Homo sapiens: one gene and its partners. The protein of the gene in region 1 purifies or fractionates together with the protein of each later gene. This does not show direct contact. Each region holds a gene or a part of one and is shown in the gene's direction. Other genes may lie near its edges.

Evidence for each region.
Region 2: the proteins of NRSN1 (region 1) and PKP1 purify together in Homo sapiens (affinity purification with mass spectrometry; one large-scale study listed by BioGRID and IntAct). This does not show direct contact.
Region 3: the proteins of NRSN1 (region 1) and HSPB8 purify together in Homo sapiens (affinity purification with mass spectrometry; one large-scale study listed by BioGRID and IntAct). This does not show direct contact.
Region 4: the proteins of NRSN1 (region 1) and NRP2 purify together in Homo sapiens (affinity purification with mass spectrometry; one large-scale study listed by BioGRID and IntAct). This does not show direct contact.
Region 5: the proteins of NRSN1 (region 1) and ERI3 purify together in Homo sapiens (affinity purification with mass spectrometry; one large-scale study listed by BioGRID and IntAct). This does not show direct contact.
Region 6: the proteins of NRSN1 (region 1) and TPST2 purify together in Homo sapiens (affinity purification with mass spectrometry; one large-scale study listed by BioGRID and IntAct). This does not show direct contact.
Region 7: the proteins of NRSN1 (region 1) and PAQR3 purify together in Homo sapiens (affinity purification with mass spectrometry; one large-scale study listed by BioGRID and IntAct). This does not show direct contact.

What each region holds. Positions count from the first base shown.
Region 1 is NC_000006.12:24,142,487-24,145,893, forward strand, and holds part of NRSN1 (neurensin-1), read left to right. Parts: intron 1-3,061; coding exon 3,062-3,407. UniProt on the Homo sapiens protein: May play an important role in neural organelle transport, and in transduction of nerve signals or in nerve growth. May play a role in neurite extension. May play a role in memory consolidation.
Region 2 is NC_000001.11:201,314,218-201,318,716, forward strand, and holds part of PKP1 (plakophilin-1), read left to right. Parts: intron 1-2,335; coding exon 2,336-2,480; intron 2,481-3,354; coding exon 3,355-3,562; intron 3,563-4,400; coding exon 4,401-4,499. UniProt on the Homo sapiens protein: A component of desmosome cell-cell junctions which are required for positive regulation of cellular adhesion.
Region 3 is NC_000012.12:119,185,087-119,189,585, forward strand, and holds part of HSPB8 (heat shock protein beta-8), read left to right. Parts: intron 1-1,938; coding exon 1,939-2,002; intron 2,003-4,499. UniProt on the Homo sapiens protein: Involved in the chaperone-assisted selective autophagy (CASA), a crucial process for protein quality control, particularly in mechanical strained cells and tissues such as muscle. Displays temperature-dependent chaperone activity.
Region 4 is NC_000002.12:205,685,223-205,689,721, forward strand, and holds part of NRP2 (neuropilin-2 isoform 2 precursor), read left to right. Parts: intron 1-4,499.
Region 5 is NC_000001.11:44,341,309-44,345,807, reverse strand, and holds part of ERI3 (ERI1 exoribonuclease 3), read left to right. Parts: intron 1-4,499.
Region 6 is NC_000022.11:26,530,900-26,535,398, reverse strand, and holds part of TPST2 (protein-tyrosine sulfotransferase 2), read left to right. Parts: intron 1-2,653; coding exon 2,654-2,704; intron 2,705-4,499. UniProt on the Homo sapiens protein: Catalyzes the O-sulfation of tyrosine residues within acidic motifs of polypeptides, using 3'-phosphoadenylyl sulfate (PAPS) as cosubstrate.
Region 7 is NC_000004.12:78,918,431-78,922,929, reverse strand, and holds part of PAQR3 (progestin and adipoQ receptor family member 3), read left to right. Parts: exon of another isoform or gene 1-101; intron 102-435; exon of another isoform or gene 436-789; intron 790-2,248; coding exon 2,249-2,391; 3' UTR 2,392-4,499. UniProt on the Homo sapiens protein: Golgi-scaffold protein which modulates its interactors acitivies by anchoring them to the Golgi apparatus. Functions as a spatial regulator of RAF1 kinase by sequestrating it to the Golgi apparatus.

The sequences.
Region 1 (3,407 bases):
TCACTCTTGTTGCCCAGGCTGGAGTACAACAATGTGATCTCGGCTCACTGCAACCTCCACCCACCCAGGTTCAAGTGATTCTCCTGCCTCAGACTCCCAAGTAGCTGGGATTACTGGCATGCCCCACCATGCCTGGCTAATTTTGTATTTTTAGTAGAGATGGGGTTTGACCATGTTGGTCAGGCTTGTCTTGTGTCCAGAAGTGGTTCCTCCCGGTGGATTTCTGGTCTCTCTGACTTCAAGAATGAGGCCGCAGACCCTGGCAGTGAGTGTTACAACTCATAAAGGTAGTGCGGACCCAGAGTCAGCAGCAGCAAAATATACTGTGAAGAGCGAAAGAACAAAGCTTCCACAGGGTGGAAAGAGACCAGAGCAGGTTGCGGCTACTGGCGCGGGTGGCCAGCTTTTATATCCTTATTTGGCCCCGCCCACATCCTGCTGATTGGTCCATTTTACAGAATGCTGATTGGTCCATTTTTACAGAGTGTGGATTGGTGCATTTACAAACCCTTAGCTAGACACAGAGCGCTGATTGGTGTGTTTTTTACAGAGTGCTGATTGGTGAGTTTACAAACCTTTAGCTAGCCACAGAGTGCTGATTGGTGAGTTTACAAACCTTTAGCTAGACACAGAGCACTGATTGGTGTGTTTACAATCCTTTAGCTAGACAGAAAAGTTCTCCAAGTCCCCACCCGACCCAGAAGCCCAGCCGGCTTCACCTCTCAGTCTCAAACTCCTGACCTCAGATGATCCACCCACCTTGGCCTCCCAAAGTGCTAAGATTACAGGCATGAGCCACCATGCCCGGCTAAAGTATGCTTCTTTAACCTTATAATCCTCAGTTTCTTATAGGTGAAATTGGAATAAAAATACCTACTTCTCATAAGATGCTTGTGAAGATTAAACAAAAAACACATCTAGCATTAGTGCAGGTCATAATAGATGTTCAATAATACCAGTTATACTTTTCCCATTTTTGCTAGGGTGATAGATTTGTGGATACGTTTTCCTTCTATTAGCCAAGCCTCCTTTATTAGTATATTATCTCAAAAATTTAAATATTAAAGATTAATTTATGTTATGTATCTGGTTATTTTCCTAACCTTGTTATTCTAACTAAAAGCAATTAAGAACAGAAGGAAAGGAAAAATTACTTTAAAAAGTAATGGTGTTAGCTATTCCTTATTCCAAGTGCTGAGCAATCGTAATACTGTTACCAATGTAGCATAACAATTTTTCAAGGGGTGTCTTTCCAAATAAGAAGAATAGCTACTTATTACAATTTATAATTTTGCCAGATACAATGTATAACTTTGCCAGATACAAGGCTAAGTGCTTTTATGGATAGTCTCATTTAGTCCTCACAAGTCCTCTATGAGGTAGGTATTATGAGCATTTGTCATTTTATAGATGGGGAAATTAATGACAAGAGCTTTTAAGTAACTTTCCTTCTATGATTCAAGTGCTAGGTGGTGGTGGTAGAATCGAAGCATGCGTCCATTTATTTCAAACCTATGGGCATTGACCACCAAATGGTACATCATTTCCATCTTTAGTATGTTACATTTCATTAGAACTTGAGCTAATGCAGTTTAACCTCCATCTGCTATTCTGAACACTTCCTAGCACCTGCACAAGTATACCCCAAATAGCTACATGTGAGAGGAGAAAGAACACTGGCCTGGGGATCAGCTCTGTGGGTTCTAACCCTGCCTCTGCAGCTTGCTAGCTGTCCATCTTTGGTCCATGACTTACCCTCTCTGACGCTACATTTCTTTACCTTAACTGGCCATTAAGGTTCCTTCTCTGCTTACTTTGAAAAGAGGTGAGTAGTTACAAAGACTGTCCATGTCCTCCAGCCAAAACCACCAGGAACACACCTATATGTTGAACAAGTTGGATGTATTACTCATTACAGTAAGAAAGAATGTCACCATAGGGGACTGTGGGGCATTGCAATATGAGAGTGTGAAAAGGATGTATAATATTATAGGATGTGGGCTCTGGTTGGGTGATTTTGGGGAGGGTCTAATGAAGCAAGAGTTCACTCTGGATTGTTAGGGACAATTCTATGATTGGATATCTTAATATATCTTATGTATAGAGAGGACAGACTAGAGTGAGACTAAAGCCATCATGAGAAAGAAGTAGGTGTCATTCATATTAGCCAGGAGCGGGGGTCATGTCGTATTTTGTGGTTTTTACAAGGACCTTGTTTTTGTCTGTGCTTAGACAAAGTTATGAAGGGCTACTGTTTTGTCTCACTTCATCATGGTCACAGAATGAGCATGTGTTAATGTTCTGTGAGATGGTGCCTGGCAGAACAGCATGGCCTTGCTGTGAGCTCCTAGCCAGCTTCTAACAATGTCGAGGCCTAGGGGACAGAGTAAGGCCAGCTCCTGGATATCAGGGCTACTCTTCTTTTCCTCAAGACCAAATGAGACAATGTAAGCAAAAGAAGGTTTTGTCAACTGCAAAGCATTGTACAAATTTAAAAAAAAAAGATATTTATATATATATTTACATATTACATATCTACTTTTAGATATATGATATATATTATATATAATATATATCTTTAGGTATATAATATATATTATATATTTTATATATATCTTTAGATATATATATAATATACATATCTTTAGACATATAATATATAATATATATATCTTTGGACATATATATTATATAGATCTTTAGCTATATATAATATATCTTTAGATAATATAAAGATTATATATATCTTTAGATAATATAAAGATTATATATATATCTTTAGATATACAATATATGTATATCTTTAGATATATAATATATATATATGATATATACATATATCTCAAGGCTGAGTGCTGGAGTTTTTGGTTGGCATTAAAATTAGAAAGATCATCTTTCACCTTTTTCAACAGAAAATTAAGTAAGTGTTTCCTGCAAATTTGGGGTAACTGGGAATATTCATTTCTCTCAAGAAACAAGACAAGTGCTGCCCTTGAGGGCTCAGGGGCGAGCCGAAGCACCTTCCTCACTCTATCTTGCTTCTGTCATTATCTACCTGTAGGTTGGACTCATCTCAGGTACAGTTTTTGTGATCCTCGGATTGACTGTTCTGGCAGTGGGCTTTCTTGTGCCCCCCAAAATCGAAGCATTTGGCGAAGCCGATTTTGTGGTGGTCGACACACATGCTGTCCAGTTTAACAGTGCTCTGGACATGTACAAGCTGGCAGGAGCTGTTCTCTTCTGCATTGGAGGCACGTCCATGGCAGGGTGCCTGCTGATGTCGGTGTTTGTAAAGAGCTACTCCAAAGAAGAAAAATTCCTCCAGCAGAAGTTTAAAGAACGAATCGCAGACATCAAAGCCCACACCCAGCCGGTTACAAAAGCTCCAGGGCCAGGGGAAACAAAGA
Region 2 (4,499 bases), on another chromosome or scaffold:
CGAGGCAGGAGCGGGTAGAGGGTGCTTGAGCTCAGGAGTTTGAGACCAGCCTGAACAACATGATGAAACCTTGTCTCTACAGAAAAATACAAAAATTAGCCAAGCATGGTGGCGGGTGCCTGTAGTCCCAGCTACTCAGAAGGCTGAGGCAAGAGAATCACTTAAGCCCGGGAGGGGGAGGTTGCAGTGAGCTGAGATAGTGTCACTGCACTCCAGCCTGGGCAACAGAGTGAGACCCTGTCTCAAACAAACAAACAAACAACAACAACAACAACAAAAACCCTGAGGGACTTCATGGGGCTTCATGATCTACTGCTACAGAACAGAGCACAACTCCTGTGCATACATGTGGAAGGCCATCACCCAGAGGAAACAAAGGAGACCAAATGGGGTGCCCCGTTAGGAGCCATAGACGCAGAGGTGTCGTGAGTGACACTGAGCCTGCCCTTCAGGGCTGGGGGCTCCCTGAACCTTTGAACTGTCCTTCATCACCACCTACTGCTCTTGTTATTTATTTATTTGGCAAATGTTTGCCGACCATCTACTACATGCCAGGCTCTTTGACAAGTGCGGGAGACACAGCCATGATAGGGACAACCCAGAGCTGTTCTGGAGCTACACAATTAACTCCTTTTCTGAGAGCCTCAGGAGCTTTGCATTCTTCATCTTTAATCCTCACACCCGCCACCAGGCAGGCATGAGTATTCCTGAGGAGAAAACAAGGCACAGAGATGTTAAGTAGTTTGTCCAAGGCCACACAGCTGGCTCTCCATCCTGTGCTCTTCCCTACTGGTACCACACTGTTCTGAAAATAAGCAGAACCCCGTTATAGAGCTAGACGTTTCCGAACTACCTGATGGCCGTAAGGCGTATTTAGGATGATCTGGAGAAGAACTAAGAAACCTCTCTGTCTTGGAGGCTGATCAGGGCAGCCTCTGGCTTCAGCTCATTGTCCCAACCAGAGGCCCTGAGTGGAGGTTCTAGGTGAGATATGGAAGGGATGAGTGTCAAGCCATTTTGGGGTGACATTTTACTGATGAATGCAGGGTGACATTCTCTCAATGCAGGCAGCAGTACTACTTACCCAGTGCCAGAGAACTCTGCACCTCGGGTGGTTTTCCTAGAAATGAAGTTGGGCTGCTATAGCTAAAACCATGGGTATTTATTGACCACCAAGTATGTCAAAGCATAAGGATAGGGCTCCCTCTTTGAATGCTGGACACAGCCAGTCACCACCCTGTGACTCTACACCAGGGGAGCTGGAGAGGTTCTTAGAAGAGAGGTTTCCCTTCCCTAGGAAGGCTTCACAGATGTGGGGCATCAGCAGGGCCAGTGGTGTGCCTTGAGGCATGCCTGAGACCTGGCCAGGGTACAGTGAAGGGGACAGTCTTGCTGGAGCAGACCCTGGATAGGGGCTGGGGAATGTTCATAGTGGAGCCGGGTTATTAGGTTAAAACATATGAAATTTCTGGTTTTATGGCTGAAAAAAGGTTGACTACAGACATTTCCTATGATTCAACCTAATACCTGCCCTTGGACATCAGGCTAAGCTGTTTAAACTTGAACCTGAAGTATGGAGAAGCCGCTGATGGTTTCTGAGCTAGAGAACAACACAGTGAACTGGGTTTTAGAACCACTTATCTAGTAAAAAGGGTATGAAATTTTAGATGGGGGAACTTGAGGAAGAAAGCCAAATATGGAAGTCCCTTGCTGCCTTTAAAGTGATCAAGATCAGGAAATTGGTGGCTATAAGAATGGGAAGAAAGGCTAGATGTGAACATTTTTGTGTAAGAGCCAGCTGGACTTGGGGATGGATAGATGGATGGATAAATGGATGGATGGATGCATGGATGGACAGATGGACGGACAGACGGACGGATGGATGGACAGATGGATGGACGGATGGACGGACGGACGGACGGATGGACGGACGGATGGATGGATGGATGGATGGATAGGATCATGGCCATTGTCTTCCATTTTCCTAATACCAGACACAAACAAGAGAGATGGCAAGGTAGGTGGGAAGCTTCCCCTCAGGGAATAGGGAGGAGTTTTTCCTCAGTGGAGAGATAACATACCTGCTAGGACATTAACTGTGACCAGGGGCTCACTATTCTCACATGGGGCAAATCCAGTGGGTGTAGCCTTCCCTCCTCTGGAGGAGAGGAGCTGTTCCCAGGGGTATTCTCCAAGTGGGCCTGGGCTGCCTTGTTCTGGCTCTCCAGAGGGCAGATGAGGCTGTGGCAGCTTAGTGTGCTGGGAGGAATTCTGAGCCCCCTCAGCAGGGCTCCCAGCCCACCCCGTAACCACCCCCACTGCCTATTCTTCACAGGATCTGCAGTGAGGACATCGAGTGCAGTGGGCTGACCATCCCCAAGGCTGTGCAGTACCTGAGCTCCCAGGATGAGAAGTACCAGGCCATTGGGGCCTATTACATCCAGCATACCTGCTTCCAGGATGAATCTGCCAAGCAACAGGTAGCTGGTTGCATACCTTCCTCCTTGGTGGGCCTGCGGAGGGCCTGGGTGTGTCAGCCTGACTCCGCTTTTAGAGATGGGTGAGGGCATCTGCAGTTGGCTTCTCTTGCCTTGCCCAGCTGCCAGGAGCCTTCGCATTGCCCAAGGTTAGAGCTGGGCATCTTAACTTTCTGCAGAGCAAAGCCCTCTGTTTAAGTGGACATTAGGCAGGTACAATTCCTCCATTGGTCATGGAAGAGACTTCAATGCCAGCCACGGGTTCAACAGAAACCCCTTTTCTCAAATCCCACTAAAGAACATGACTGCTCCTCACCTCTCAACTCCTGCCCTCCTACCTGCTTCCTCTCTCCCACTCCCCTTCTCTCTCCAGGCATCTTACGGTAGAAAACAGGCCTGTTGATGCCTCCAAAGCTTTGCTGGCAGGAAGGACACTACAGGGTTCTTCAGTTCAGCCCAAGGATGTAGTGTCAAAAATGAGTTTCCCAGAGTCCCGGATAAGTTTGTATGCATTTCTATGTCTGTGTTCTGCTTTAGGGTTTTGAAATGTATTTACATCCACTCTCTTATCAGGTCCTCACCATCATTCTCCAGAGGAAGAAAGCAGGACTCAGGAAAGAGGAGGGACCCTAGCTGAGGTTCTCCCAGCTAGGATATGGGAGCTAGGATATGGGAGCTAGGATCTGAATCCAGGTCTTTTGCCTCCGGGTCTGGGTCAGTTATCATGACCTCACACTGCTTATTTATTTTGGTTGACTTGAATATTTCTGAACTGATAGATTTTTTGGTCTGAAAAAAAAAATCACCTTTGAGTAGAGAATAACTAGATCAGCCTCATCTCCCTTGACCAGGCAGCGTGGCAACTCTTTCCTGGCAGGTCTATCAGCTGGGAGGCATCTGCAAGCTGGTGGACCTCCTCCGCAGCCCCAACCAGAACGTCCAGCAGGCCGCGGCAGGGGCCCTGCGCAACCTGGTGTTCAGGAGCACCACCAACAAGCTGGAGACCCGGAGGCAGAATGGGATCCGCGAGGCAGTCAGCCTCCTGAGGAGAACCGGGAACGCCGAGATCCAGAAGCAGCTGACTGGTAGGACAACACGGCCACCGAGAGCCAGCCTGAGGGCTGTGCAAGGCCACTGGCTATGGCCCCAGGCTGGGGTGCAAGCCTGTCTCTCCAGGCTGGGCCAAGACACAGCTGTGCAGATTTGGCCCAGGGCTAATATCCTGAGAGTTTAGTGACACTGGCCTTGGCCCAATTAGGGGTGTCCAGAGGGTGACCTTGGGTGGTGTGCACACACAAGGGGTCACCATCTTTTTGAGGTTAAAGAGCAAAAGGAGGAAGGCTGATGTCCAGGCAAGATCCATATTCCACAAGCCCTGGGATTCCCAGGTGATGGAAAGAGAGTAAGACTGAGGGGAGAAGGGGTTAACAGGCCTTAAGCACCTACCCTGTGTTCAAGAAATATGGTAGGCACTCAAGGTGGGGGGCACAAGAGGAAGAGGTCACCGTGAAGACCTAGAATTGGGCTGGGAAGATCAGACCATGTACAGAGTAATGACTGATAAGTATTTCTGGCATAACTTTCAGATGGAAAAGAGACAGCGTTAGAAGACTCCAAGTGCTAAAATTTATACTAAAAACCACTGATCAATCAAACGTTTTTTGATCACTTTCCACATGCATAATTTTGGCCTTGACAGAGAACTCTGAGATGTTCCCTGCCTGCAAAGAACCTTCAGTCTGGTTGGGGCATTGAGAAATAGCCTCATGACACAGACAGACAATAGGTTCTACAGACCAGGGCTACCTGGAAAGCGACATTTCAGTAGGGCCCATTTGCCAGAGTCCAGGCTGGGGCTGTTACCTCGGTCCCTAGGGCATCCTGAGCCTGGCACAAATTGGGTTGATGGTCTCTGACCCCCAGGGCTGCTCTGGAACCTGTCTTCCACTGACGAGCTGAAGGAGGAACTCATTGCCGACGCCCTGCCTGTTCTGGCCGACCGCGTCATCATTCCCTTCTCTG
Region 3 (4,499 bases), on another chromosome or scaffold:
CTTCCGTGGGGTGACAGGATTATAAGTAGTTTTGATGGCTTTTTTTTTTAATTTTTTCTTTTGTTATTGTTGTTTTTTTTAAATTTAGAGACCAGATCTCACTCTGTTGCCCAGGCTGGAGTGCAGTGGTGCATTATAGCTTACTGTAACCTCAAACTCCTGGGCTCAAGCAATCTTCCCACCTCAGCCTCCCAAATAGCTAGGACTACAGGCACACACCATCACACCTGGATAATAATAATAATAGTAATTATTATTATTATTTTGAGACAGAGTCTCACCCTTTTGCTGGGCTGGAGCGCAGTGGCGCGATCTCGCCTCACTGCAACCTCTGCCTCCCGGGTTCAAGCAATTCTCCTGCCTCAGCCTCCCAAGTAGCTGGGACTATAGGCACGTGCCACCATGTCCAGCTAATTTTTGTATTTTTAGTAGAGACGGAGTTTCACCGTGTTGGCCAGGAAGGTCTCGATCTCTTGACCTCGTGATCCACCTGCCTCGGCCTCCCAAAGTGCTGGGATTACAGGCATAAGTCACCACGCCCTGCCTATTATTATTATTATTATTATTTTTAGAAACAGTGCCTCTCTATGTTGTCCAGGCTGGTCTCAAACTCCTGGCCTCGAGTCATCCTCCTGTCTCAGTCTCCCAAAGTGCAGACATTATAAGAGTGAGCCACTATGCCCGGCCTATTTTCTGCATTTTCTAACATACACATGCACTATCTTAAAGCACAAAAAAAGCTATTAACAAAGAAATAATTAAAAGTAATTAGCTATAAGTTGTCAGTTTAAAAAAATCTGGACTGCTATATTCAACAAAGTTGTTTACATTCTAGATTTCAAGGCCCCTCAGAAGCACCTCCCTGTGTAAATGAGGGTTCTTGCCTCCAGAAGGTGGCCCCACAAATGAGGAGTGAAAAGTAACAGCCGAATGGCCCCACTGTTGTACTAATCTTGTTTGTTTAAAGAGAAACTACAGACACTCTCTCTATTAAAGAAAAAAAGAATGAGGAGAGACCGAGAGAATTAGAATGTGCTATATACATTACAAGATCAAAACCAGTTTAGGCCCAAGTCTTCTTGTAATTTCATCTTTTTCCTCCCTGAGGGGGTTGGGAAGCCCTCTCTTACCACAGGTTAAGAGGCGAGAGGTCTGGTGGAATTTCACATCCACAGTGCCCTTAGGAAAAGCTGGGTGTTTTTGGCAGATTGAAGCATTCTTTTTCCAGGCTGTGCTTTCACTACTGGGTACAGATAATGTGGCTTAAAGAGCTAATCGGGAGCTGGAACAGACAGAAATTCAAGAGCAGAGAGGCATCAGGACCTAGAACTTGGCCTAGACTCAGAGAGAGCTGATTCAAAGCTCAGAGCCACCAGGGACCTGCTGGGCGACCCTGGATCCATCACCAAGCCTCAGTTTCCATGTTGGAAACAAAGGGAGAACGACGTCTGGGCTCAGAGTTAGGAAAGCACTCTGTTAGCTATAAAGCAAGCTACATGGCAGAGTCGCCCTCAGCATGTGACCCCGCTTCAAGCCTGCCATCCAGTCTGGGATGTCAGACCCAGGGTTCTACTGGCAGGTTAGAGAAGAGGAGTCAGGTGGGAGACTTGGAAGATTTGGTACAACACATGGAAGATTTGGTACAACACAGAAGTTTCTGCGATTTCCTCAGACTAACCCTTAATTAACTACAAACCACGGTCTACGCCTCCTTTCCATCAATTATCTTATTTCACCTTCATAGCCAGCCTTGGAAGTGGACTTAGGTGGGTCTGTATGGCAGACAAGGTCCTTGAGGCTTAGATAACTAGAGTCTCTAGGGTAGGCCTAAGTCACACAGCAAGGCAGGTCCAGGGCCAGGATTTGAACCCAAGCCTCAGTCCTGAAGGATGCCCAAGGAACATAGATGCTGACACGCCACACTTTTCTTCCTTCCAGGCAAACATGAAGAGAAACAGCAAGAAGGTGGCATTGTTTCTAAGAACTTCACAAAGAAAATCCAGTAAGTAACCTGGAGTCATGGAGCTCAGGGTGGGAGTGGAGGAGGGGGCACACCTGGGACCCATGATCTGGGGTCTCTCCCTCTTGGGCATCTCTCTTTTAAGACACCTCCTTGGGGCAGGGAATTGAACCCTCACACCTAACGAGGAGAAAATATCCCAGCAGACCTGTAATAGGGTCCCAGAAGGGGGAGCACATAGATTGCATCATCTCATCTGCTCGGTGCCCTGTGAGGTGGGTATTAAAAACCCCATTTTATTTATTTATTATTTATTTATTTATCTTGAGACCGAGTCTCACTCTGTCACCCAGTCTGGAGTGCAGCGGTGTGATCCCAGCTCACTGCAACCTCCACCTCCTGGGTTCAAGCGGTCCGTGTGCCTCAGCCTCCTGAGTAGTTGGGATTACAGGCATGTGCCACCATGTCCGGCTAATTTTTTGTATTTGTTTAGTAGAGATGGGGTTTCGCCATGTTGCCCACACTGGTCTTGAACTCCTGGGCTCAAGCGATCCACCCACCTCAGCCTCTCAAAGTGCTGGGATTAGAGGCTTGAGCCACTGCACCCGGGGAACAACTCCCTTTTATAGACTAAGCATCTGAGGGTAAGCAAGACAATGACTTGTCCACAATCACACAGCCCCTACCCATGGGGCATAGCTGAGGGAGGACCCCTGTCACCATCCAGAAAGACCATCCCCTGATTCCCCAAATGCCCCAGCAGAATATCTTCCAGGCTGCTTGCTCAGCCTCTGCCCTGCCAGGAAAATGAGCACCTTCTCTAGGGCATCCACAAAAATGAAGTTGGAAAGTGTCCTGAGAACACTGCATACTACCCAGAGAGGTTTGGAGGCTGAGACACTGGGACACAGGAAGAGCTATTTTGCTGAGGGGAGTAGAAGGGATTCATGTTTAACAGGGAAAGGGAGCCTGGGGGAACCGTGAGAGCAGCCAAGGACAATCAGGCTGAGGCCATGAACCAAAGCCACCACGAGCCCCTAGCTGGCAGTACCTATAGGGAGCAGAGTTGCACAGTGTGGTCACGATGGCTGCACTTAAACAACTGCCAGGTGCTTCATACATACCTTCTCCCTAATCAGCAATCAGCGTCACTCCACTATGTGCGTTTCTGGCCCCTAAACTCTCTCTCTCTCTCTCTCTCTTTTTTTTTTTTTTTTTGAGATGGAGTCTCACTCTGTTGCCCAGGCTGGAGTGCAGTGGCACGATGTCAGCTCACTGCAACCTCTGCCTCCTGGGTTCAAGCAATTCTCCGGCCTCAATCTCCCAAGTAGCTGGGATTACAGGTGCATGCCACCATGCCTGGCTAATTTTTGTATTTTTAGTAGAGACGGGGTTTCACCATGTTTGGCCAGCCTGGTCTTGATCTCCTGACTTCAAGTGATCTGCCCGCCTCTGCCTCCCAAAGTGCTGGGATTACAGGTGTGAGCCACTGCGCCTGGCCCCTAAACTCTTTTCCAAGCCATCGTTGCATTTAGCCTTTGCAGCAAAAGTGTGCATCGGAGAGGAGACATGACCCTCCTTGCAATACAGGGAAACTAAGTCTCCCACAGGTGAAAGGACATACCCAAGGTCTTTACAGCTAGAATTTAGAAGGGCCCAGAATAGATCCCTGACCTCTGAGTTCCATGCTCAGTCCTTGGGCAAGGAATGCTGTTTCCTCATCTGTGAAAGGGATGCTGATTCCAGCCTTGCAGAGTTCCTGGCTGAAAGTGACATAAGGTCATGGCCCAGCGTAGGTCCTCATAAGTGGGAGTTCATTATTACTATTGTTATTGTTGACTCTTAACTTTTCCATCAGCCTTTGCAAAGAAATTCTGTGTGTGGAGAGATCACACTAGCTGAATTCTGAGGCTTCTTCCAGCTTGGGATTCTACATTCCTGTCTCTTCCCCCACATGTCCGTCCCTGGCCCTCCCACAGCCTCTGCAGTTCTTGGAAGCCTGTGGACACTTCCTGATAAGGCAAACGCCAAACCATTTGTTCTTCGTGTTTGCTGGCTTGCCTGGCATCTCCGTGCCCCACACCTCTCCCTGGTTTAGCAAGCAGATTAAACATTGCTGAGGGAGAGGAAGGAAGGCAGGGGGTGGGGGGAAGCTGATGTCAAGGCTCAAATGAGGTCTCAGGGTGGAGTCACAAGCAGGGCATAGCTGTAAAAGGGACTGTGTAAGAAAGAAGTGAATTAATCATCTTAAAAGGGGTGTGTGTGTGTGTGTGTGTGTGTGTGTGTGTGTGTGTGTATTTCACATGCTCCAAGGCCTTAGGGGAGATAGCTTGCTGGAAGTAACCTGATGAGAAATGCCTGAAATTGCTCCAGGCTGGTGCTCAGCTGCTGAGCTGGGCTAGTTGTTAAAATATTCAGTGGTCCCCAACCTTTTTGGCACCAGGGACCAGTTTCGTAGAAGGCAATTTTTCCATGGACTGGGGAATGAAACTGTTCCACCTCAGATCATCGGGCATTAGATTCTCATAAGAAGCATGCA
Region 4 (4,499 bases), on another chromosome or scaffold:
CAGAGGCGCGGAGTTCGGGGCAACCTCGGACCCGGGGTGGGATCTCAGGGTGGGATTCGAAGCTGGGACCTGCCAGGGACCTCCAGCTCCCCAAAATGCGATCTCAAGCCGTGAGCTGCTCAGGCTTTCAGGCGGAGCAAAGCACTGGCACCCTGGGAGCCGGCAGCGGGTGGCCAGGGCGAGGCCAAGCCACATACCTCTGACTCACCCGGTGTGCGCCGGCCGGGAAGGGGGCCTGGTTCAGCCGCCGCCGCCGGCGACGAGAACCAATTCTGGGAAGGAGCAAGATGGGGCAGAAGGTGCGCGCGGGGGAGCAACTGAGCAAATAACACGGCGGTCGCGGCGCGCGGCACCTTGGGCTGGCGCGTGGCTGGGAGGCCGCATGGGCGACGCGCACCAGGCTGCCCCTCTCCTCACTGCGCCGCCTCGCCAGACCGCAGTGCAGCCGCTAGCCTGCCTCCCTCCCTGCCCCGGGCGCCCCCGCCAGTCCCCTGCGCTCCGCTCTGCGCGGCAGGCTCGCCGCGACCCCTAGAGAGACGGCTTTGAGTGGCGGGAGGCCGAGGCCGGCTGGCTTGGGAATCCAAGCGCTGGCCCAACTAGGTGAGAGGAAACTGGGGTGGGATTTCGGAGAGGAGGGCGGAGAGAGGCGGGAAGGAACCAGCTTGAGCCCCAGGAATGCGCGCAACTTGCACAGCCTCTAGAAGCGCCGCGCGCCCAGCGCCCGCCGGTGCGCAGGAACAGGTGAAGAGCACGCGGCGTGCGGCCATCCACGTGGTGGGGACGTGATAGCCCCTCAGCTCTCCTCCTAGCCCTCCCTCCCCTTCCCCGCCCCCCAGCGCCTTCTCTAACGCCGCATCGATTTGTTTGGGCTACGCAGCAGAAACAGAGCCCAGCGATCCATAAACATTCTATTAAGCAAAAATATTCCCAGCGAAAGCAAAACCGAGGCTGAAGCCTCCGCGAAGTTGGCCGCCTCCAACTACTCCATGCTTGTGCCCTCCTCCTCCTCCTCCTCCTAAGGACACCCCCAGGGAAAAGCCTGCGGCATTTCTTCAACGCTGCCCTATGCCGGAAAGTTAGGTCTCGGCTGCAGCGCTGGTCTCTGGAGAAGCCTCTGCCTGCAGCCGCCGGCGAGTTCCCGCCTCCCCTCCCCAGCCGCCTCGCTCTTTGCTTTTCCACGTGAGAAAAAGAAATGTTCACGGCCGATGCTTCATTTTCACTGATTGATTTCTTTTTAATATCAACACAAGTTAATGGAGGCAAGGCGCGCTCTGATTGAAGGGCTGCCCCCGCCCTTCGACTCGGGCTGGCTGTGCCGGGGGTCTTTCCCACCGGGTCGCAGGCGTCCAGCGGCTGGGTGGCGGGCGCCGGTAGCCCTAGTGTTTGGAGGTGGGGGAGGGATTTGGAATAGACTTGTCGCCCCTCTGGGAATCATCTGGGTTGGGGAACCTTCGGGAATCAGCTTTCCAGACCAAGTTTTAGGGGATCTTGCCCATATGCGTTGCGGCTTCTGCGGCTCCGGCTGAATTTCTTCTAAAAGATAGGAGATCCACGCTCAGGTTTATTGGCGTGTGCTCCCTGCTCGGCTCCCCTCCCTCCACTTCCTGTTCTTTCGGTTTCAGACAGAGAGGAGAGCCCCCTGGCGCTAGCCATTCCCGATCAGCGCCCACTACGAACGTCCCCTTTGCTAGAGTTAATCATGATCTGCGGGGGGACTGGGTTTTGCTCAGAAAATCATTCAAGTCCTGACAATGGGTTTCTTCAAATGGTGGCAACTCCCAGGCCTAATGTCCCCACCTCCGGGACACATCGCTTGGGGCCAAAAGAACCCAGACCCCATAACCATCTACCCCTCCCCTCCTCGTCTGGAGAGCTTTGATCTATGCTTGGGTTTTAACGCCATTGCCATGGACACGCGCAGATTCTCGGTCAATTCACCCTTCCGTCTGGACTGGATGATCAGATAAGAGGTGTAAATTGGCTGTGGGAGACAGGTCTGGGTTCAGACAAATCCTGAAAGAGAAGCAATGACGGTCTAGGCGCCGGATAAGGGTTTGAAGTGTTTCTTTTAGCCTGTCTCCCCAAAATGTGAGATGGCCATTGGCGAGCATAATAATTTGCAAGTAAACTGTAAACTCCTAGATTTTACGCAGACGGCCTGCTCTGGGCTCTAGGGATTGGTCTCATGCCCACATTAAATGGGTACCCAGTAAACATTTTTCCCCCGTGATCAGCTCCTGGAGGTAGGGAAGCTGTGGCCAGTTGCCAGCAGAGCACACAGTGCAAGACAGTGGCAAGAGGAGCACTCCCCAAAGGGCCCCGGGCAGGCCCCTACTCGTCCAAGCGGTGCCTGGTGGAATTGTGAATGCGCCAGTGCACATCAGGTTTGGAGTTTTATGTCATCCCATAGAGCCCTCAGACATTAAGCTACGGAGCACTCAACTGGCAAAATGAAAGATTGGAAGGCTGCAGTGACTGGAACCCAGGCTACCCAGACAGGACTCCTGCTGTCTACCAAATGGCTCTGATCCCCTGCTGTTGAATGTATCAAGTCCACGTTCTGCAGCAGAAAGGCCAGTTCCTATCTTCCAGGCATAGAAAAAGCTAGGAATCCAAATGCCAATTCATATGCAGTGAGGCACGAATACAAATGACAGTGAGGGAGGGGTCTGGGGTCAGTGAGGAGAGACACCAGGGACCAGATGATTCTGGGGACCCTGGTGTTTTTCATTTCACTCAAGTCTTCCCTAAAGCAATCAGGAAAATGAACTGACTCAGGATGACCTGAGTGTAAGACAATTCTGAGTTGACAGAATTCAAGAGCCAGGTAAAGAGGTTTCCAAATATATTCTCCAAAGGTCCAGTTTGGAAAGACTTTAGGAACTTGAGCTGAGATCTTCCTTTCTTAAAAGATAGAGCAAAAGAAGAATATCTTTTTAATTTCTTGAACTGACAAGAAAGGACTTGAAAAGTGTCATCTGGGCAATGGCTTGTAGTGTTATTAACATATTTGAGGTATTTTATTATCTGACCATCACTTGCAACTGGATAATCTTTGAGATACCTTCCTTGAGTGGCAGATAAGTATATTGATCACCAGAAGTTAGTCTTTGTACTGTTCCTTCCAGGTAAGGACTTGGCTGTTTGCTGATTTTTGTTTTTTAATTAACCCATTTCTGGAAGATGCTGCAGAAGTTTGTCCTGGAGAGCTACAGTATTTTTCAAAGCTTTATCTGCCTTGATGAGAAATGGTCAGAGGCTTAATGGTTTCATTGCCTAACAGGATTCAGTGGAGTAGGATTCCAGGACACAGTGGCCTTGTATCATGGCTGGCCCTCCAGGAGAAAGCATCTTCTAAAGGTTTAGGAAGCTGTCAAGTTTAGATAAGGCTGAGCTCCGATCCTCTGGGACCTTGGTTGTATTAATAAGGAGAAATTAATTTTTAACCACTGGGAACATTGCCAAATTATGTGACCTTTGGCAGACCAGCTGTGCTATAAAAATAAATCCCCCATTTCTGAAAATGCTACTCCTATCCAGTAGAACAATAACAATGTGGCATTTAGGATAGAGAAGAGTAGGATTGAGAAGAAAGGAGAGAAATAGGAGTTGGCAAAAAACAAAAAAACAAAACAAAACAAAAAAAACAAAAAAACCCTTCGATGTTGTGATACATGGTTTCAGACCTGAACTTCCTATCCATCACCCGCCCTCCCCGGCCCCATGCCTAGGGTTTCCAGAACACAGGAAAGAGGGCCAGGATGACAAGGAGCTGAGTGCCTGTGTGTACAGGGAGTGGAGAAGGTGTTAAGTGCTTCCAGCCCACTCACACCCCAGCCTCAAACACATCTCTCATTGTTCACACAGACAGAGTACTGGCACAGGCAGAGAAAAGGGGGTTTTCAAACAGGCAAAATATTTGTCTTTCCCTAAATGCTACCAAGTAGGTTTGCCACTGAGAAGTTTTGTGGGGATCATCCCTGGCCTTCCCAGCTTCTGAAACATGGGAACTAGACTGCCTGGGTTTAGAATCTAGCTCAGCCACTTGCTGGCTCTGTGATCCCAGTATCCTGTGTGATCAGATACTTAGTCTATGTGCCTCGGTTTCCTTGTCTGTAAATGTGTTTGGTAACAATACCTACTTCATAGGGTTGTTGGGCTATGTCAGATTATGTAGAATACTGTTTGGCACATATGAAGCCCATTCTGAAGTCACTGAATCTTTAAAACTGTTTCAGTGGGGTTAGTGGAATCTCGTGATCGTAGAAAGCACACTATAACCATTGTGGTAAGTTGATTTTTATGAGATTTAAAAAATAATTCTTATTCTCAGTTCTTCCACCACCAAACCTCTGTGTTTTGTAAGCACCATATTATCTCTCGCCATGCTCTTCTTCAGAGAATATTCTCTGCTGAGTTCTTATCTTAGATTTATGTCTCCCTTGCATTTTTTCCCTCCTTCTTCCTCTGTTTTCAGTATTCTTACCTCCTATTTTCTT
Region 5 (4,499 bases), on another chromosome or scaffold:
GGACTGTGTTGCCTCTTAGGTTTTCTTTCACCTTTGACAGTTTGTTTTTCACACAGAGAGTGCTCTGGCAGTAAGGATATATTCATTAGATTGAAGATTATGACTTTTGAAGGGATGCAGTTTATTTGTATTTTTTCCCAGGCTATTTTTAGCTGCTTGAGACAAAGCCAGTGACTGAGTTCCAGACAGGTATTACTGTGTTTTTTGTTGTTGTTTCTGTGACTCAGGTGCCTGAGCACTTGTGATACTGCAGGTCAGATTGGGTTGGGGACTTACACCAGGACTGAGAACTGAGGAAGCTATGATTGTTGTATTCCTAGGTGCTTTCAGTCAGCTGGACTCAGAACCTGTTGCAGGTAACTTGGAGTTACTTGGATGTATCCCTGCCTCCTAGTCTGGCTTTTAATGGAATGAATTGAATCCAGGGGTGGTATAAACATACACCATCCCAGAGATCCCAAGTACATGTGGCTGGGGAGGTGGAAGTGGGAGTAGACCACCTGTTTCACAGTGGCCTCCTCTTGTTTTCCCATCCTGAGGACTCCCTTGGCCTGTGTGTGTGGATGTTAAAGGTTGACCCCCTCTGCTCACCCCTCCAGTAATGGAGGCTATAAAATGTCTATTTACCCAAGACACCAGAACGACTCCTCTGTGGTTCCTCTAATCTGGTGATTTGGTGCTTCTTTGGTCTCTCAGGTAAATACAGATTGAGTCTTTTTATAAAGGCATATTATTTCCCTCATTAAATGTGTGTTTTGGCACATGTGTTATTTACCTGATAGACAGTAATGGCTGCAGAGGAGCCATTGGTGTCTGTTGTGTAAATACTCTGCACAGAGACCATCCTCCAGGGGCTCTGGCGCAGGCCTGCTTCTCCAAATCGGGCTGGCCCCGTGGCAGTCCCATTTACCCCTCCCCTGTCCCCACTGGGGACCTGGGCCCTTCATATTGAGGAGAGAATCATTCATTTTCCTCCTTGCCATGGGCTACTTAATACCTTTAATTTGCTAGGAGACGGAAAAGGATGTCTGAGAATAAATGTGTATAAATCTTAGTCTCTGATGAAAGATAGTTTGCAGAAATAGGCAGAATCATAAACTTTCTTTTGAGTTCTGGCCCTCATTTAGATACTCAAAGTCCCAGTTGATATTATAAGCTATAGACTTATAGCCTGCAAATTTGTGACTAAAACATAAAGACATCAATAGAAAAGAGAAATCCCTAAGACACCGGAGGGTGCAAGGGCAAGTGGGATGCTGCTGCAGGGAGCAGGTGTGTTTCCTGAGAAGGCTGTATGGTAGCAGGAGTGCCAGTGAAGTGGGCATTGAGTAGGGGCTCTTCTGATGGAAACTCGGCTGGATAGAGATACTGTTTGGGCTGAGAGATGCTTTGAGCCTCTCTACCAGAGAGAACATGCAGCCTACCTTCTGTGGGCATTACAGGGAGATCTGTCTCTTCAAATACTGTCTGTGTGATATTTTTAATTTTAAAATTGTAACCACATTGCACATGGATTTTAAAAAACAATTTTATTTATTTATTTATTTATTTATTTATTTATTTATTTATTTATTGAGATGGAGTCTCTGTCACCCAGGCTGGAGTGTAGTGATGTGATCTCAGTTCACTGCAAACCCTGCCTCCTAGGTTCAAGCGATTCTCCTGCCTCAGCCCCCTGAGTCACTGGATTACAGGGGTGTGCTACCATGCCTGGCTAATTTTTGTATTTTTAGTAGAGATGGGGTTTTGCCATGTTGCCCAGGCTGGTCTTGAACTCCTGACCTCAAGCGATCTGCCTGCCTTGGCCTCCCAGAGTGCTGGGATTACAGATGTGAGCCACCCCACCCAGCTGATTTTAAAAAACAATTTTAAAAAAACGTTTGAAACAGCCCAAATTTACATAAAAGTTGTAAGTACAGTAGAAAGAATTTTTTCCCTGAACCATTTGAGGGTTAAGTTGCCGACCTAATGCCCCATCACCCTGAATGCTTGGTGTGCATTTCCTATAAACAAGGACATTTTCCTACCTAGTCAAAATACAACCATCAAAATCAGGAAATTAACATTGATATAAAACCTCTATATAAACCTTGGACCCCATTAAAGTTTTGCCAGTTGTCCTAGGAATGTTCTTTGCAGCAAAGTGATCCAGTTCAGAATCGTGGGTTGCATTTGGTTATCAAGTCTCTAGTCTCCTTTAGACTTTCCTCAGTAAACGTTCCTTGGCATTCATGACCTTGATACTTTTGAAGATTACAGGCTGGTTATTGTTTAGATTGTCTCTCAATTAGGGTTTGTGTGACATTTTCTCATGATTAGATTTAGGTTGTGTAGCTTCAGGAATATAACAGAAATGATGCTTTGTTCTTCTCGTCGTGTGATTTTGATTTATCCCATTATTGATAATGTTCACTTTGATCACTTGATTAAGGTGATGTCTGCCAGGCTTCTCCATCATAAAATTACTACTAGTTGTAATTAATAAGTATTTTGTGGGGTGATACTTTGAAACTATGTAAATATCTCACATCAAAGTTTAATTTTATTGATTTATATCTTTATGGACTCATGGTTTTCTATTCAGTGCATTATAATCCATTACTATCATTGTTTCTTGGCCAGTGGGTGGCTTCTGTATCCTTTTGGTATGTTCCCATCATTATTTGGGTGTTTCCTTGCTTTCTGATACAAGATGTTATGCGCTCATCTTGTATTTCTCTTGCTGCATCCCTGGAATCAGCCATTTCTCTAAGGACCTCTGTTTCTTTTAGTGGGGAATGGTATTTAGAAGGCAACTGGGGCTGGGTGCTGTGGCCCATGCCTGTAATCCCAGCACTTTGGGATGCCAAGGTGGGAAGAACATTTGAGCCTAGGAATTTAAGACCAGCCTGGGCAACGTAGTGAGACTCTTATCTCTACAAAAAAAAAAAAAAAAAAAAAAAAAAAAAAATATATATATATATATATATATATATATATATATATATATATATATTAGCTGGATGTGGTGGCACATGCCTGTGGTCCAAGCTACTTGGGAGGCTGAAGTGGGAAGATTGCTTGAGCGTGGGAGTTCGAGGCTGCAGTGAGCTATGATTGTGCCGCTGCACTGCAGCCTGGGCAACAGAGCAAGACCCTGTCTTCAAAAAAAAAACAAGAAGGCAATGGAGTGCTAGGTGTGCTCATTGCCATTGTTACTGCTCCCTGGCTCTTCCTTAAATAGAGCTAGAAAATATATATGCATATGTGTGTATATTTGTGTGTGTGTGTGTATCCATCTATCTATCTGATACACATCTAATCAGAAACCATGAGTTCACATTCTTCCTGCCAATTCCAATCCAACACCACAGATTTTCTCCCTTTCCATATTTTAACTCCTTTCTCTTAACAGTGAGAAACCTGGGTCCCATTATGCTTAATATATGCACTTCTTTGATCAGTTCCTCTGTAGGTAGCTAATCCTCATTACTGCCACTGCCCTTTACCCTTCATGAGTGCCTCTTTTACCCTGCGTGTGTCACCCCACATCAGACTGCCAGCCGACATGGATGCTCTCCACATCCCCCTCGGCTCTGACATGCTGCACCACACCTTCCCACTTCTGCAAGGATGTCTTCCTCACCCTGCCTGGGCTCTGACAGTGTCCCCCAGACCTCTCTGGCTCACCCTACTCCACCCGTTGTAGATATCTGCCCTCTTCTGCTGCACCTAATGGCTTTAGGATTGAGTTTTTCAGGAAGGGAAGAGGAAGAGCTACCCTCTGTTTCTTGACTTGAACTGAGCTTGGTTGTTAGAAGTAAGGGAAGTGTGGAATCCAGTAACTGCTGATATGTGGAGGCCTGACCTCCTAATGTCTACTCTCAAGACTTCCTACGAGAGAAGTTTTTTTGTTTTGTTTTGTTTTGTTTTGTTTTTGAATTATGGTCTTGCTCTGTCACCCAGACTGGAGTGCAGTGGCTCCATCACAGCTCACTGTAGCCTCAACCTCCTGGGCTCAAGTGATCTTCCTACTTCAGCCTACCAAGTAGCTGGGACTACAGGCATGCAGCACCCCGCCTGGCTAATTTTTAATTTATTTTTTGTAGAGATTGGGTCTCACTATGTTTCCCAGGCTGGTTTCGAACTCCTGGGCTCAAGCAATACTTCTGCCTCAGCCTCCCACAGTGCTGGGATTACAGGTGCAGTCACTGTGCTTGGCCAAAAGAAGCTTTTTGATGTAGATGAAATCAGGTGAGAAAGCAAGGCCTGCAGGCAAGAGGACCACTGGCCATCAGAATAGGGTATATATAGTATGCTCTGTCAGAGGTCTGGAGCATTTTAGGGTTGCAGAAGACATCGATATTACTCTCTGAGGCTGCCTTATGAATTAATTGGATTTGTAGGCCCAGAATCTGGGGATCCAGGCTTGGCCAGGTGGGCATAGCCCAATAGGATAGTAGTAATAACATTAGGATAATATATATTAGGCTGTTATATGCCAGGCACTGGTCTTAGTG
Region 6 (4,499 bases), on another chromosome or scaffold:
TAGTTTACTTTAAGTGCTGTGTTCTAACTTCCTTATAGGCAAATATTTGAAAATGGGACCCAGGCCTGAGGAAGAGCTTTCACAGCCCTTACTTCATTAAGACCCAGAGTCTTTAATTTAAGCTAAGCTCAGCATTTCTGAGCGTGTGCTGATTTTAGGAAATAAACAGTTATCGTATTGAATCACAACGGAAAAAAGTTAATCGTCTCTTAGTTCCGTAACTCTTCAGTTGGCTCAAGAAGAAAGTTTCCATTTGGTGCTAAAAAGTCATTACCACCTCTCTAGCACTCACTGATCTCTCTTTAACAAAGAGAATTTACTAACGCTGAGCTTTGGGGGCTGTGCCCTTGTAATTGAAGTGTAAGCTTTGTCTGTGGGTCTCGTGAGTTCCTCTTCCTCTTGACATTAGTTGATTTTGCAGACATCTATTTATGGAAATACTCAGAGATTCAACGTACATACCAGCCGACATTGACAGGTGAATGGCTGCAACCCAGATGTGGTTTGTTATTTTTATTATAAATATTATTAATTTTTATTTTATTATTCTTTAATAATAGTAATCTTTAAACCCTACTTATGTGTTTTACATACTTTTATCTGCCTGTGGGTTGTACATGTATTATCAAAATAAAAAATTAATTAACTGGATTAAAAAGATGGTAGTGATCTCACAATCCAGCCCCAGGTGCTTCTCAGAAGCAGAGGCGAGGGCCGGCTGGGGACACTGCAGTAGTGGGCTGGATGTTGCTTACTTCACTGTTCTCAGCCAAGGGCCCAGCAGTGGCTCCTCTGGGGTCTCCTTAAAAGGTGGCTCGCTGCCCCTGGCTTGCCCCAGGCTATGGGTCGGACGTTCCTGGAGTAAAGCCTGACTTTATGTATTTTATAAAACACAAATAATTTTCATGAGCACTGGTGGTTAACATCAACTCTTTGGAGCTTTTTGTGTTTGTTTATTTAAAATGGAAGCTGTCTCTCATTTTCATCCAAAGAGATTTCTTCCCTGGGGCGGTCAACAAGTCTTGGCAAGTGCTAGATCCCTGGTTTAGTTTTTGCCATAGCTTGGCTGTTACTGCAAAGAAAAGTCCTCTCACTAAGCCCTGTGAGTTTGCATGCATGCCTGTGTGCTTCTGTGAGTGCTGTGGACCCTGTGTGTTCCAATAATGGATCCTGGGGCTCAGTAAACACAGTGGCTAAAAGGACATCTATGCTGATGAAATCGTCTCTGCCTGCAGTGTCCCATACGGTAGCCACTAGCCATGTGTGGCCCCTGATTCTGTAACAGGAGGCTAGTCCAAAGTGAGAGGTCCTGTTAGGTGTAAAATACACACTAGATTTTGAAGGCTTAGGACAAAAAAGTATGTAACGTTTCTTATTAGTCACTTTTATATAAATTACATATTGAAATGTTAATATTTTACATAGGCTGGACATGATGGCTCATGTCTATAATCCTAGCACTTTTGGAGGCCAAGGCAGGCAGACTGCTTAGCCTAGGAGTTTGAGACCAGCCTGGGTAACATGGTGAAACCTCATCTCTACTAAAAATATTGAATATTAGCCAGGCATGGTGGCACGTGCCTATAGTCCCAGCTACTCAGAAGGCTGAGGTGGGAGAATCACCTGAGGCTGGGAAGTGGAGGCTGCAGTGAGCCGTGATCGCACCACTGCACTCCAGCTTGGGCTATGGGAGTGAGACCATGTCTCAATAGAAAAAAAAAAAAATTAGCTATATCAGGTTAAATAAAAGATATTGTTAGAATTAATCTCCCTTGTTTCATTTTATTTTAAAATGTGACTACTAGCGGAAAGGCCTGAAATGTTGTGGTTCTAACTTCAGGGCCTTTGCTCTGTTGCCTCTGCCTGGAGTGCTTTTTCTTCTGAGCTTAGCCTACCTATTTTTCCTTGTCGTTTGGGTCTCAGCTCAAAGGTTATCTATTTCAAGAGGCCCTTTTTATTTTTATTTATTCACTTTCTTAGAGACAGGGTCTCGCTCTGTCACTCAGGCTAGAGTGGAGTGATGTGATCATACTTCACTGCAGCCTCAACCTCCCGGGCTCAACCAATCCTCCAGCTGAGGCTGGAGTAGCTCCAGAGCAGCTGGGACGATAAGTGCATGCCACCATGCCCAGCTAATTTTTAATTTTTTAGAAATGGGGTTTCAGTGTGTTTCCCAGGCTGATCTCAAACTGCTGGACTCAAGTGATCCTCCTGCCTTGGCCTCCAGAAGTGCTGAGATTACAGGCATGAGTCACTGCGCCTGGCCCAAGAGTCCCCTCTTGACCACCCACTCAAAAGAAGCCCCCTGGTTACTCCTAATCCCACCTCTTTACTGTACTTTTTTCACAACAGTTCCCATGGTTTGCTATGTCCTTGTTTATCTGTGTTTATTTTTCTTGTATGTTATCTGGTGCCCCCTCTAGAATGGTAGCTCCAGGGGAACAGGAATTTCCATTATCTGGTTAACATCATGTCAACCAGACACAATGCTTAGAATAATGCCTAGAAGAAGAGGAGCTTAAGCAATGTTTGTTGGATGGAGGGATGGGTGGGTGGCGAGGTGGATGGGTGGATGACTGGATGTGTTGGGAATGACTAAATTTTATTTTTTGGCCATTTTCATAATAGTGATATTTCTTTTTCTCTTCCTTAGGTCTTGAAAGGGGACTATAAAACACCAGCCAATCTGAAAGGATATTTTCAGGTTAGAAACCCCAAGGGGAATTCCGAATTCTGTCTTTCTCAGCTATACCACCATCTGGCTGTATGCCCTTAGATGTGTCACTTCTCCACTCTGGTTGATGGTTTTCCCATTATAAAAAGGGGGATGTGAGCTGGCTGCCTGTAATCCCAGCACTTTGGGAGGCCAAGGCAGGCAGATCACGAGGTCAGGAGTTCAAGACCAGCCTGACCAAAACGGTGAAACCCCGTCTCTACTAAAAATACAAAAATTATCCGGGCGTAGTGGCACACACCTGTAATCCCAGCTACTTGGGAGGCTGAGGCAGGAGAATCGCTTGACCCTGGGAGGCAGAGGTCGCAGTGAGCTGAGATCACGCCGTTGCACTGTAGCCCGAGCGACAGAGCGAGACTCCATCTCAAAAAATAAAAATAAAAAATAAAGGGCTGTGGGGATGCGTGCTGGACCAGAGGGTCTCTAAGCACTGATCCAGCTGGGGCCACATCTCAGTGGCCCTTCTGCCAGGAAGCAGCCTCTCACTTCGTCTTCCGGCTTGAATGCAGTTGGAGGGACTTCGTGGGGACTTTTTCTTGGGCTTTCTTTCTTGTTGAGACTGGAGTGCAGTGGTGTGATCATGGCTCACTGCAGCCTCAATCTCCTGGGCTCAAGCAATCCTCTCACCTCAGCCCCTCAAGAAGCTGAGACTACAGACACACACCATCATGCCCGGCTAATTTTTGTGTTTTTTGTAGAGACAGGGTTTTGGCATGTTGTCCAAGCTTGAGTTGTATTATTTATAATAAACAGGTAGCAGTTAGTAAAGTGTTTTCCCTAGTGTCTTGTGAGCTGTTCTAGTGAATTATCAAACCAGAGTGGGGGTTGTGGGAACCTCCAGATTTGAAGTTGGCTGGGAAGAAGTGTGGATAGCCTGCGCACCCCATTGCAGCTGGCATCTAAAGTGGGGCAGTCGTGGAACTGGGCCCTTAATCTGTGGCAGCTGATGCTAAGTAAGTCTGGGAGCTGGTGTCAGAACTGAACTGAATTGTTGAACACCCAGTTGGTATCCAGATAATCAGAGAATTGGTCACTGATATTGGAAAGCACCCATAAGCCAATATCTGAAGGATTAAAACTAGGTCTGCCACACAAAGATCTGGATAGAAAAGGCTTCCCGGCAGAGGGAACTGTAAACGCCTGAAAGTGGGGAGTGTGGCCGAAACCTCTGGAGTGCGTATGCACTTTTGCATTCGTTGCAATTATATTTTTCTTTGTTTCTACCCCAATGTGATTTACAGGAATGTTCATTGCAATTTTCATGTTCAAACTGCCTTGTTTTGCTTTCTTAATATTTTCCTATCTTTTGAGTTTCACCGGCACCATTTTGGATGGCTACGTAGTGTTCTGTGGAATGCATGTGCTACCATTTACTAAACAGCTTCTTCAAGACCATTTCCAGTTTTTACAACATCCAGAATGACATTATGTGCACAGTGGAGGACAGTAGGGAGATGAGGGTTGGAAATAGAGGCTTGACAAAACTTATCTGCAGGGCAGCCCTCCTGAGCGTGGGGGTATGCCATTCCTTCATATTTTGTTCCTAAAAGCAACAAAAACCAGTCCCAGGTCAGCTAGACATCTTGCATATGTCATACACGGCAGGAAGTATAAACTGGCCCAACCCTTTTGTTTTTGTTTTTGTTTTTGTTTTTGAGATGGAGTTTTCCTCTTGTTGCCCAGGCTGGAGTGCAATGCGGTGATCTCGGCTCACTGCGGCTTCTGCCTCCCAGGTTCAAGCAATTCTCCTGCCTCAGCCTCTCAA
Region 7 (4,499 bases), on another chromosome or scaffold:
GTCTCCAAAACCTGTATTTGCTTGTTTGAGAACTTTAGCTCTGGAGTCAGACTGCTTGGGTTCAAGACCCACATCAACCACTTTCTAGTTACGTGGGCTAAGTAAGTTACTTAAGTGCTCTCAGCTCCAGTTTTCCTATCTAAAACATGGAAATACTTTTTTTTCCCCCCAGGGTTAGGGTAAGGATTAGATGAGAAAATGCATGTAACACAGTTTAATGAGGGTTAGATGAGAAAATGCACATATCATGTAACCAAGTTTCTAGCAATTAGTAGGGACTGAATAAATGACAGCAATTATTACTATGTCCCCCAGCCCTGGTCTTATAAGTGAAATATGTGGTTTAGTAAGAGACAAAGTGATGCAAATCCAGGTAAGTTTTGGCATGGGTCAGAAATAACATTTAGAGTACATAAAACTGATGTTTTTTTTCAGTTTGGAGAGCTATGAGTCAGGGAGCAGTTTAAATCTAAACTGCAAATTTATCCCCTCTTCTTCCTGGGTTAAGAATCACTTCCACGGTGAATCAGAGAAGGGATTGTACCACTCGTCACGTGTGTTGGGAAAGAAGAAAGGGTGAGAAACCCTGGCCTAAACAATCCATCCCACAGATCCTCAGGCATTCCTTTGTGTACTTGGTTTTTCACCACTGAGCTTTAAATAAGAATGGAAATACAAGGGAAAACCTGCGTTGTAAACATGAGGATTTGGGAACAGATCTAGGACATGCCACTGAATTGAAGACCACCCATCTTCCAGGCAGGGCCAGAATTACAGAAAACAATTCTGGTAAAATATATTTTTGTATCACTTTATTAATAATTCTTTTTAAAATTCTGTATTTTCTTTATAGCAAGACAAGTAGAACACTAAACCATGAAAATTCTCTATGTGATTATGACCATAGTGGGTTTTAGGCCTTAAAATATTCAGATCAGGAGTTACCAATTGTTTAATATAGGACATATATAAACAATCAAACTTATTGTAACTTAACCTTCCCCAAGACACACTTGACATAAAATGTGCCCTATGTAGCAGAGCATATTGAGTTTGGGTACATGAGAGCAGTGGAGATATGGAAACTAAAAAATTAAGTCTTTCCAGTGAAAAGTGATAGTCTCAAATGTTCATATATAAATGCCTTAGAAACTATCTCTGGCAAGTCCTCATGTATGACCTGGCCACTGGGAAATAAAATAAATTTTAAACTAAAAGCTTTCATTCAGCTCAGGTTGAATGTTTAAAAATGTATACACAACACAGTGGCATTTGATGGGTCCAAGGGTCCCCAAGGTGTCCATGGATAGAATTGAGTGGATCTCTGATAGTTGTATTAGATAATCAATATTTGTTGTAATCCTCTGTGTTTTGTTTTTTAAAAAAATGGGTCTGTAGGCTTCACTAGACTGCCAGAGGCGTCCATGGTACAAAAAAGGCTAAGAATCTTATTGATATACACTTTAAAATCTATGTACTGTACTGATTGGTAAGAAAAAAGAGAGGTTAGAGAATATTTACATTATATGACCATAGAAGCACCATGAGTATGTTATTTACATTGAAATTATTATAGCTCTGTATTTTATTTACTGAGAGAGATCAAGAAGTTTTCCGTATGTTAATTGTTTAATCTTCTCAGAATTTAACATTTGACCACAAAGAGATTAAATTGTTCTCTTAAGTTGTATATGAACTAAACAACCTTAGTTAATTAATCCATTACTAATTACATCCTGCAGATTATTCCATTAGTTAGAGAGCACAGAATTCAGGTCAGCACTTTTTCTTTGCACACCTGCTTGAAATAAAAAGTGCTTCTAATAGGTTTATATCTAAACCCAGCAGTATATCTCCTTCTCGCGGATTTATACCTAAATCACACCATGATTTTTAACATCTGGTTTCTTTTGCCTCTCTCAATAATTTTTTGTTGTTGTTCATTCCATCAAATGTGAGTTGAGATGTGGGAGGCATAAGGTCAAATTCCTGAAATTAAGTTAGATTTTGAAAACACACTTGGAATAGCATTTCTAAAGTTTACCTGTGTACTTAATAAATAAAACCTTAAAATTAGACCCAAATATGAATTGATCCATTTCTAAAAACGTTTGGAGCTTCCAGTTAGTCTCTAGGCACTCTGAGACTATGAAAATTTTTCTGCTAAGCTATACTTCCAAGAAATATATTTTTCCTTTAATGTCAACATATTGAAATCATTATCATTTTCTTTCTACCTTCTTTCCAGGACAACTAAACTACCTCGGATCAAGCCACCAAATATGGCATATCCTTGCAGTAGTGATGTTATATTGGTGGCATCAGTCAACAGTGTATGTCATGCAGTACAGACATAGCAAGCCTTGTCCTGACTATGTTTCACATTTGTGAATTAGGTATGGCCACCTGGTGAATTCAGTTGTTAAGCAATATATAATGGGGAATTGTATACCCCACTATTTCTAAGATTCCCATTAGTTTTCCCTTTTTCCTTTTTAATATGAGTAATGCTTTATAAAAATGGGAAAAAAAGTATACTTAAGGATCTGTAGTAATAACTGCTTTACAAAATCCTTAAAACTACTAATTTGCTGCTTGTACAGAAAGTGAAAATTAGTTGGCAATCATAAGAAACATCTGAATAACAACGATGAATGGGAAACTAGTGTTGAAATAGGATTCATTTTACTTAGCACCAGCTTAATTTCCTTAGGAAGGGCTCATGTCCATTAGAAAATGGAGTCATCTTATGTGCTTAATTATTTTCAGTTAATTGTCAAGTTTAAGTGCCTAATCAAGGCAAGTGTTGTTTCAGCCTATGCTTAATGCAAGCTAGGATAGTGATTTTAAATAATCACTAAAATCACTAGATTTAAATAATCACTAAAATGATTTGTGAGAAACTGGCACTTCAGATATTATATCCTTTAGCTATAGGTTCTTCTCTCCCTAAGAACATTAGATATTTTAGTTTTCCAGAACAAAAGCTTTAAACTTCTGCAGTAAGTTGAGAGAAGGGTTGAGAAGAGGAAAAGAACTTCTCATTTTCTATCAGATAAGAATCACATTAGAAACTAAGTACAAGATTAGACAACAAATTATGTGGTCAAATAATATAGTCATTAGCCACCTAAACATTTTAATTCCAGATATTATTTAATTCCATATAATAACTGAATTCTTGTGAGTGGATTACAGGTTTTTGATCCCAAAATTCCAGAGCTTTCAACTCTCTGAATTTGTAGTCCTGAATATCCCAGTGGTGGGGGTTCCCAGCATTGTGGGTGCTACTTGCAAGGCCATAGAATCTAGATGGCCCTGTCTTGACCCTGAAATGAACCTTAAGCCTTAGAACAAAGTCATGCAGATGCCCCATTTGATAATAATCTTATTCACCTGTGCTCTGGTCCTCGGTTTCTGCATGTGTTAGCATTGCATTGATAACTCAGAATCTTGATAAACACTTAATATTTGGGCCTGAAGCATTAAACTTTCTTTTTATTGTATATACTTAAAAAATAGAACTCACTGCCCTATCATACATTGTAGCCCTCTTATTCTTTGGTCTTTCATATGCATTAGTTAAATCCCTTAAAGTAGACATTCATAAAAACTTACATTGTTTATTGGAGTATAAAATATTACCCAAGTTTCTTCATGAGTTGACATGAGCTGTTTTAAATACTGGTGTATTTTCAGAACAGTAAAATTACTGAATATCAGAAAAAATGTTAATTGATGATGAAGCTTATTCCCAAAATGCCTTTTGTGCATATGATACTTGGAAAGTCACTAATGTGCCTCAGTTAATACATCAGTAAAATGTTGTGTTTCTTTTCCAGTGTAGTGTTTTTGGAATATAAATTCCCCATGCTAGTATAGTATCTCAGCAAAGAGAATTTCCCCCCAGGAGGCTCAGTAAAGGAATACCGTGTCTTACCCATCGTTATGATGGAAGGCTGCTTTGAAAATGGCTGTTTTACCTTATAAGGTTAAAATTTTGATCCATATGTTAAGTGATAGAAGATTTTGGTGCAACAGTAGTAGGATATATTTCTCCTAGAACATCCCTTATTGGCTTACATGATTTTATTGCCTTTTAATAGATATTTTGTCATTTTGGCCAAACAAAAGACACTGAGTAGTTACACTTAAGTTAAAAATGAGGGGAAAATCATTATTTTAGGTGTGGAGCCATTTTTATTATAAAACTTTCTCAAAATAAAAAAACATTGAATCATTTCAATTTTTGCAGTCCCTGTATTAGTATATGAATACATACTTGCCATTTGAATTAATAACATGAAAAGAGTATACTGTGTTTTTAAATCCGTGTTTCTTTGAATTTAAAGGGTGTACAGGTCTTTCTGTAGGGAAAATTATTCCATGTAAACATTTCAACTCTGTATGAAAATGTTAAATATTGTAAGAAAGTTATCCTCTCATTTTTTCACTGCTATGATATATTTATTATAAAATAGGGAATGAATGAATGAATA